Regions from separate parts of the Homo sapiens genome. Here region 1 is linked to region 2. The links come from fine-mapping of genetic effects on gene expression. A gene starts in region 2. The other region holds a variant in brackets. All regions are shown on one strand. Distances are from middle to middle.

Region 1 (4,388 bases), 31 kb before region 2:
TGTATTAGTTATTTGTTGCTGCATAACAAATCATTCCAAAGCTAAGTGGCTTTGAACACCTCAATTACTCATTCTTTCTTAGTTTCTGCAGGTCAGTAATTTTGGAGTGGCCCCGTTGGGATTTTCTGGCTCTTGGCTGCTGATGGACTTGCAGTCAGAAGATGACTGACTGAGGGTACTATTAACTGAAGGCCTTGATTAGGGATGTAGGATGCCTTTCACAGAGACTTATCAACTTGGCTGTCAATTTCTTCTCCATGTGGGCCTCTCCAAGGAGCTGCTTGAGTATCCTTACAATATGGTAGCTGGACCTCCCCAGAGCAAGGCTTCCAAGAAACCAAGGCAGAAGTTGCAATGTCTCCTATGACCAAGGCTTGAAAGTCACACACCATCACTAACACTGTGTACTGTTGGTCACAGAGACTAGTCTGCCTGATTCAGTGTGGGAGAGATCTACACAAGGGCATATATCAAGGGCAAATAGCAAGAAGGGGAGATCATTAGAGGCTACCACAGATAGCTAGGCATGTGGATATTTCTTTTATGAAAAACAGGCATGCATTTCACAGATTCTGAAATAATTCCAGTTTTAAATATTCTTCTGCTCTAATTTCACCAGTATACTCATTCTTATCTGTTATGTGTGTCCCAATTTAAGTTTAAAAACATGTTCATAAAAATTCTAGATAGCATGGCAATAAATATTCAATGTATGTCTTCATGTTTACCCTTCTAGTGAAGTGTTTCTTTAATAATTCCCTCAGTGGGTTTGTGTATTCACGAGATATCATGTACATTCTAATAGCACCTGATGTGTAATCCCATATTTCTATTCTATAAAAGGTGATAGCTATATTTTAAGAGCTTTACTTCCTGCATTCATTCATTTTAAATGAAATGTATATTACTCTAGCTAATTGGAATAAGTATGGTGGCAGCTAATATGTGACAAGGTAAATTGTGACAGAAAAATAAAACTGTTTATTGTTTTGTTGGGAGATCAAATGCATCCCAGTTGACATCTTAAATTTATTTTTAGGGCCTGGCATGATGGCTCATGCCTGTAACTCCAGCACTTTGGGAGACTGAGGTAAGAAGGTTGCTTGAAGCCAAAAATTTGAGACCAGCCTGGGCAACATAGTGAGACCCTGTCTACAAAAAATATTTTTTTTAAAAAAACAATTAGTTGGGCATGGTGGCACATGTCTGTAGTCTTAGCTACTCAGGAAGCTTAAACAACTAATTTTTAAAAATACTTTACTTTTGCACATGATTTCAAATGGGAGATTTTTAATAAACAATAATTTATGTTAATTACAAGTAGTCTTAATATAAAATGATAAAACAAAAAACATGAGATTCTGCAGATGAGGTTCAGGCTTCTTATAGCTATTAAAGACACTTTCATTTGTGTAATGGTGGTCACTAATCCTTTTACTCTTAGGTAAATGTCTTTTCAATTTATAACCATCCCACATCCTTATATGTTCATGTGGAATATAGGCTGTTTCCTGACATGATCATTAGAAAAAAGACAAATAGCAACTAGCGGGATGCTTTGATGTAGCAAAATTAATGCTCCCTTTTGCTGTGTATCTACCCCACCAGCAAAGACAGAAACCCTATATTTAAAACTCTATCTATGTTTTACCTAATCAGCTCTAGCTGTGAGGCAGGAATGATCTGCTTGTTCTGATTTGTTAGTTTGTTTTGAATCATTTATTCACTGGAAAACTCAATCTTTTTAACACACACACACACACACAGAGACAGAGAGAGGCTAGCTTTCTTTCTTTCTCCTCCTCCCCATCCTAGATGCACACAAAGGAGAATATGTGTGAGCGAGAATCTCACCTGGAAGCCGCAAATCATTCAGAGTTTAAGGCAGAAAAATTGGTGTCAGACATGTGAAACTAAGGATTTTTTTTTTTTTTTTTTTTTTTTTTGAGACAGGGTCTGGCTCTGTCACCCAGGCTGGAGTGCAGTGGCGTGATCGTGGTTCACTGCAGCCTCAACCTCCTGACATCAAGCAATCCTTTGACCTCAGCCCACACCACCATGCCTGGCTAATTTTTGTATTTTTGTAGGGACAGGGGCCTCCGTATATTACCCAAGCTGGTCTGGAACGCCTGGGCTCATGTGATCCTCCTCCCTTGGCCTCCTATAGTGCTGGGATTATAGGTGTGAGCCACCTCTACTGCCCCAAGGGTGAAAGTAAAATGCAGCACCTTCCCCAATGGGTTTGTCAATTGGCCCCTATGGTCAGCAGGATCCCAGTGTGAACCCAGGACTCTGGTTATGGGACACTTAACCAGAGAGTGGCTTCCCCTTGAGTGTGTCTGTGGAAGTGACTTCTGAGTGTGAACCAAATCCCCAAAGGGCCACTGTGACTTAATAGGAGCACCTGGGACACAGCTTGTTCTCGATTTCCCCTCTGAACACTGACACCTGCCCTCAGGTCCTCCTACTCCCACCTGAGCAGTGAAAACTGGAAAAGACAAGTGTGACTTCTGAGAAGTCAGCTGAAGCCTGCAGATAGGAGTGAGTGGAAGTTGTTTTCAGCATTTACAGCACGGGTGCA[A/G]TTTTCCTGGGGTGGCACACAGCCCTGAAACAAGCGGTCCCTCCTCAGCCAAAGCAAGCAACCTGATGTGTTGGGGTGTGTGCACCGGTGAGTGTGTGTTGTTTAGACACCATGCCCTTAGCTTGTTTTTGTATAAGAGGGGCCAGACAGTCATCTTATTGTTCAGGGAGTAGAAGCCCAGGTGCTTTTAGAGCCCAGCGGCTCTCTCCAGCCGGCTTAGGAAACAACACTGTGCTCAAGTTTATGCATAATTTAAGCAAAATGAGTAGAAAAATACTTCCTTTCAGGCCGGGCGCGGCGGCTCAAGCCTGTAATCCCAGAACTTTGGGAGTCTGATGGGGCGGATCACCTGAGGTCAGGAGTTGGAGACCAGTCTGGCCAACATAGCGAAACCCCGTCTCTACTAAAAATACAAAAAAAAGCCAGGCATGGTGGCGGTACTCGGGAGGCTGAGGCAGGAGAATCGCTTGAACCTGGGAGGCGGAGCTTGCAGTGAGCCGAGATCGCACCATTGCACTCCACCCTGGGTGACAGAGTGAGACTCCATCTCAACAACAACACCCAAAAAACTTTCTTTCACCCAGTGGCAGCAGGTTTCCCGAGGTGATGAAAGCCTGTCTGTGGCTTTCCTGCCTTCCCAGGGCAGACCTGTAAGGGCAGGCTACCCTCCTCTGCCTACTGCTCCCCACCTCCCCCAAATCGGTGTGGAGAACTAGGAAGGGTCGTAGGACCTCAGCCCCTATTTCTTTCTTTTTCCTTTCCTTTTTTCTTTTCTTTTCTTCTTTTCCTTTCCTTTCCTTTTTTCCTTTTCTTTTCTTCTCTTTTTTCTTTTCGAGACGGAGTCTTGCTTTGTTGCCCAGGCTGGAGTCCAATGGCTCCATCTCAGCTCCCCGCAACCTCTGCCTCCCGGGTTCAAGCGATTCTCCTGCCTCAGCCTCCCAAGTAGCTGGGATTACAGGCGCCCGCCACCTTAGTAGAGCCGGGGTTTCACCATGTTGGTCAGGCTGGTTTCGAACTCCTGACCTCAGGTAATCCACTCGCCTCGGCCTCCCAAAGTGCTGGGATTACAGGCGTAAGCCACTGCGTCCGGCCCAGCCCCTATTTCTATCTTCCCTGAGCCTCGTGACTACCAGCTCTGGGGGTCTCTCTGGAGGGGCTGGGTTGTGCTCCTGGACAGGGCGGAGCGCATCCGAGCGTATTTAGGTTTACACTGAACATACGGATCATTCGAATATATATTTTTTAAAGTAACCTAAACACGCCTCCCTAAACCCGTGAGAATCTAATGAGCTGAGATAAAAGGCTTTGAAAAATCAAAATGGCCAGATACCACTTTTTCTGGTTTCACTGTCGCGATCACCGCTGTTGCCCGGAGCCGCCCCCTTGGGTTCCTGCACCTGCAGCTCTGCCCGGGCGCCACCCACGCTCGCATCGCCGCTGGTCACACCTGCTCTCTTTGTTTCTTTCCGCCGGCAGACTGGATGCACATGTGGTCGGGGGAGGAGGAGCTCTGGGCTGGGGAGGGACGACCAGGGCTGAGACAGGAGCTTAAGAAGCTTCTCCGCCGGGTGCGGTGCCTCACGCCTGTAATCCCAGCACTTTGGGAGGCCGAGGCGGGCGGATCATGAGGTCAGGAGATCGAGACCATCCTGGCTAACACAGTGAAACCCCGTCTCTACTAAAAATACAAAAAATTAGCCGGGCATGGTGGCGGGCGCCTGTAGTCCCAGCTACTAGGGAGGCTGAGGCGGGAGAATGGCGTGAACCTGGGAGGCGGAGCTTGCAGTGAGCCGAGATTGCGTTACTG
Region 2 (4,388 bases):
ACATATAAATTATCTACATATATAAAAGAACTATATCTATATTCTATCATTCTATATCTATTCTCAGCCAGATGATGGCAATAGTAAGCTATATAACAGAGAAACAGAGAAATAGAACGTCCTGGTGTTTGTCCTTGACATTATACATTTGAAAAGCTGAAACCACTAGATGAAATATTAGAAACCAAAACTCTGTTCATGCTTCCAGCATTTGAAAACATTTTTCCATAAAAAGTTTAAGCATGTGCATTGAGATTAATCTGCACCTCCTTTGTGTAATTCAAAAACCTTTTGTTTCTACTAGTATTCATTCTTTTAAAGCTGCATAAAAAGAGATAAAACTACACTTGCAATTCTTTAGAATAATTTCTTTTTAAGTAAGCAAGATAACCAGGTGCTGAGTTGATGCCTGCACCCTGCCTGCTTTAACTTAAGTGGTGGAAGCTCTGCCGGAACAGCCTCTGCACTGCGGTTAGTGTTCCGGCCACGCACGTAGTAAGCATCGTACCTGTACGCAGCGATTTCTATATCCAGAGCCATCTTGACGTTGAGGAGGTCCTGGTATTCGCGCAAATGACGAGCCATTTCCCACTTTGTGCCCCGAAGCTCATTTTCCAGCTGCTGGATGGTGTCCTGAAACAGACACAGAGAATCTCCCCAGACTCATCCTTGCAAACAGCAACTTCCTTCGCAAACCACTTGCTACCCCTTCCCCCTGGCCTCCTCCCGTCTCCCTCCACTTCTGCAAACCTCGCTGACACCTGACTCCCAGCCCCCCGTCCCACCCCCTTTTTCTTTTAAATCTAAGCGATTCTCAAATGAACATACAAGATCAGTAAGACAATAGGACACTTCCTGGGCACATCACGCACGGAGACCAGTGGACTTAGAACACGTCTCAACAGGACACAAACATGCATGGGGAAACTCCATGGCTGACCTGGCCATTCCCATCTGAGCCCTTTGGGCTGAAGCCAATTTTGAGAGCTCTTCCGATCACTGCCGGAAAAGTAGAGAATACACGCGTTTCTGCATAAGCTATCCTAAAGTTGCTGATTTATCCACTACCGAATTCATCCCTCCTGCTTTAAACGTGCAAGCGTGCAAAATTAGAACTGGAAAAGATGCACGTTTCTGAAAAAGGTCAAGACCCTTAGCAGCTGGGGCAGGTGGGTGGGGGCGGAGTGTGGAGGATGAGATGGGCGAGGACGCTGATCCGCAAATACCCTAGGTCTGCGGCGCGCGTGCTCTAGCGAGCGGCCACCAGGGAGCGCGGCGGAGAGGGCGCCTGGGCACGAGCCCAAGTGTCGGGGGCGCGCGGCGCTGGCGCTGGCGCAGGCTGGCCGCGCAGCCGCGGTTCCTACCTGGTAGCTGCTGAGGTCGTGGTTGTGGCGCTCCTCGATGTCGCTGAGCTGCCGCTCCAGGGACTCCTTGGTGCCGCGCACCGACTCTAGCTCGATGCTCTTGGACTGCAGCTGGCGCCGGTACTCGGCGATCTCTTCCTTGGCGGAGCGGATGGCCTCCTTGTTCTGCTCGGCCGCCTCGGTGAGCTTGGCGTAGCGGCATTTGAACCACTCTTCGGCCTGGTGCATATTCTGGTCTGAGTGGCTTTCGAGCTGGGAGCGGATTTCCTTCAGCGCCGTCGAGATGTCTGTCTTCAGGTAGTCTTTGCGCTCCACCGTGATGTGCGATGCCTGGATCTGGGCCAGAAGGTCGGCCACCTCCTCCTCGTGGTTGCTCCGCAGGAAGGCCACCTCATCCTGCAGCGACTGCACCTTCTTGTCCAGCTCCACCTTGACCAGCGACGCCTCCTCGATGTCTTTGCGCAGCGCGCGGATGGCCGCCTCAGTGTCGTCGCGCAACCGCGCCTCCTCCTCAAAGCGCTCCTTGAGCCGGTGGATGTCTTCCTCCAGGTGGTCCGAGTCCAGCTGCACCTGAGCCTTCTCGTGGTTCACCATCTCCAGGGTGGCGCGCAGCTCGCGGATCTCCTGGTCGTACGCGTCGCCCAGCTGGGCGTGCGAGGCCTGCTTCTGCCGCAGCGCCTGGATCTCCGCCTCAATCTCCTTATTCTGCTGCTCCAGGTAGTGCACCTTCTCTATGTAGCCGGCAAAGCGGTCGTTCAGCCCCTGCAGCTGCTCCTTCTCGTTGGAGCGGGACAGCTTGTAGTCGCCGCCGGGTCCGGAGCCGCCGTTGAGCAGGGACGAGGACTGGCTGAAGTCAAGGCTGCTCTCGGCGGAGCTGAGCATGGCCGAGCTGTAAGCGAGGCGCGGGGCGAGCATGCTGCGCTTATAGGAGGAGGACACGGTGCTGGGCGAGCCGCGGGACCACGACTGCGAGCGGAAGCCACTGGACGGGGAGCCGCTGACGCGGCTGAAGCTCGAGCGGGTCTCGGTTACCCGCCGGTAGGCGGACGGGTTGCCCAGCGAGTCCAACGTGTAGCTCATCTTGGAGGCCTTGGGGCGTGTGGCTGTCACAGCGTTCTGCCGGCCTCGCCGCAGCCCATTTATAGCCGCGGCGCTGGTCCCGGGCCAGGGCCCCGCCCCGTGGAGGCGGCGGCCGAGGAGGCGGGGACTGCGGGCACCGGTCGGGGAGGAGGGGAGGGGGGCGGCTGAACGGTGATTCAGCGCCCGCTCCACGTGGGCCCAGGCCGCATGGGAACCTGGACTTTTCTGCCCTGGGCCCAGCCCCTCCCCCAGGTCCCCTTTCAGTCCCAGGCTACTTGTAGCCGGGCATTCGCCTTCTTTCCATTTCTCACCTCCCGATTGCGTTTCGCACCCTTGGTGCGAATATCGCCAGCGCCCTTTCTTTGTCACTGTCCCGCCGTTCAGGCAGCGCTTCCCCGACCCCGTGGTCCCCTTGTTCTTTAGCCTTCTACCCTCTTATCCTCAAGGCTTTCTCTTATTTTGCCCTTTCCCTGATACTTTTTTCTTTACCCATCTTCTGTGCTTAATTTCATCCCCTTCTTTTTTGGCCCCTCTTCTCCTTCCTACTCTGGCCTTTAGTCCAGTTCACCCTGCCCTTCTCTCAGCCCCTTCCTCGGAGATCCTTTTCTTCCAATCTTTCCTTCTCCCCGTCTCCTCCCTCCTTCCCCTTGCATTCCCTCTTTTCCCCTCCCCCACCCTCATCTTTTCTTGCCTCCCTCCCCTTCCCCCACCCCTTGTCTTAAAGCAGCTGGAGATGAGCGCCGAGGAGCTGGGTCTAGAAGACAAAACAAAACAAAAAAAAAGACTTTGCGGAACGGTCTGCCTGAAGGCTTCGGGAAGGGGACAAAGAGAACAGGCCGGGGTAGTTATTTGTATAAAAAGTGGGATATGGCGTTTTTAACGTTTGGGGGACGTCCGCAGCTTCCGCAGGGGCAGAAGGTAAGGCGCTTGTGCTCGCTATGGCGCCGGCAGCACCAAGGACAGCGCCCAGGTCGGCGAGTGGGAGGTGCAGCCACCCGGGGGGCTTGTCACCCAGCCTGGCCTGTCAGGTTGGCAGGGGGCAGGGGGTTCCCTTCCCCCTCTTCTCTCCGAGTAAATACAATTTAAACCTGCCTGTAGTGACTATCTTTGCAGGAGCGAAGCTGGAATCACAGGCTAAGACTTCCCTGCAATGCAGGGTTGGCACAATGGACAGATCGCAGATTTTGAAAACAACCAAAATTCATTAAAGTCAGTTAACAGAAATATATACTTGTAGCCCAGTTTGAGTTTTCTAACATATGGTGGTATAGGAAATGAAGAGATACAGGGCCTGAAATGTGAAGGTCAAATACTCCTTGGAAAGGAGAATTTGAAATCTGTTGGGATGAAAAGTCCAGGGAAATATAGTTTTTCTTAAGTTTGGACACAGACAATTGCCTTGTCATCTTTCGGTTCAGTATTCCCTATGTGTAACTGCAATGATTGAAAAGGCATCTGAATTAACTTTAAATTGATTTAAAAGTTGCGGAACAGAGTCACCACAACCTTGAATAAAATCAGATGTTTTCCCTTCATTTAAAATGTAATATATTTTTCGCTTTAGATTTTAATGATTGATTTGGAATAGATTTTCTATATCATTAAACATGTTTATGCAAACAAGAACTCTACACAGACTTCTTGCTGTCTGGTGTACTCCTGTTAAAATGTCCCTTTATTTTGGGTAGTGCTTTGGGGGTAATTCAGGTTAAAAAAGTTCAGAATACTACAAGATAAAGTGAAGAAGAGATTGCAGAACTAACAACAGCGCTGGGGCCACAGGTACAAGTGACTGAATGTGCAACGCTTGCTATGGGTGAGAAGAAACTACTGCTTATAAAAAGTAGGGACTCCAGACCGAAATAGCTTCTTTTCACAGCATGTTTCCTTAAGTCCCTGTTTTATTAAAAGACAGGATCATATTCATCAGTAAGTAATCAGGAA

Evidence for each region. PIP is the estimated chance that this variant, and not a neighbour inherited with it, causes the effect. A credible set is the group of variants that fine-mapping cannot tell apart.
Region 1: its variant is the best candidate, but not a certain one, in a credible set for the expression of NEFM in whole blood (INTERVAL, PIP 0.53).

What each region holds. Positions count from the first base shown.
Region 1 is chr8:24,942,916-24,947,303 of GRCh38, reverse strand. No RefSeq gene overlaps it. Among named protein-coding and RNA genes, the nearest start is that of MIR6841, 8.8 kb to the left of the region's middle. The variant A/G (reference allele first, on the strand shown) is at 2,582.
Region 2 is chr8:24,911,850-24,916,237 of GRCh38, reverse strand. NEFM (neurofilament medium chain) reads right to left here and starts at 2,477. Exons shown (of 3, transcript NM_005382.2): 1 at 1,365-2,477; 2 at 509-633. The coding sequence starts at 2,444. RefSeq lists an enhancer at 2,060-2,833.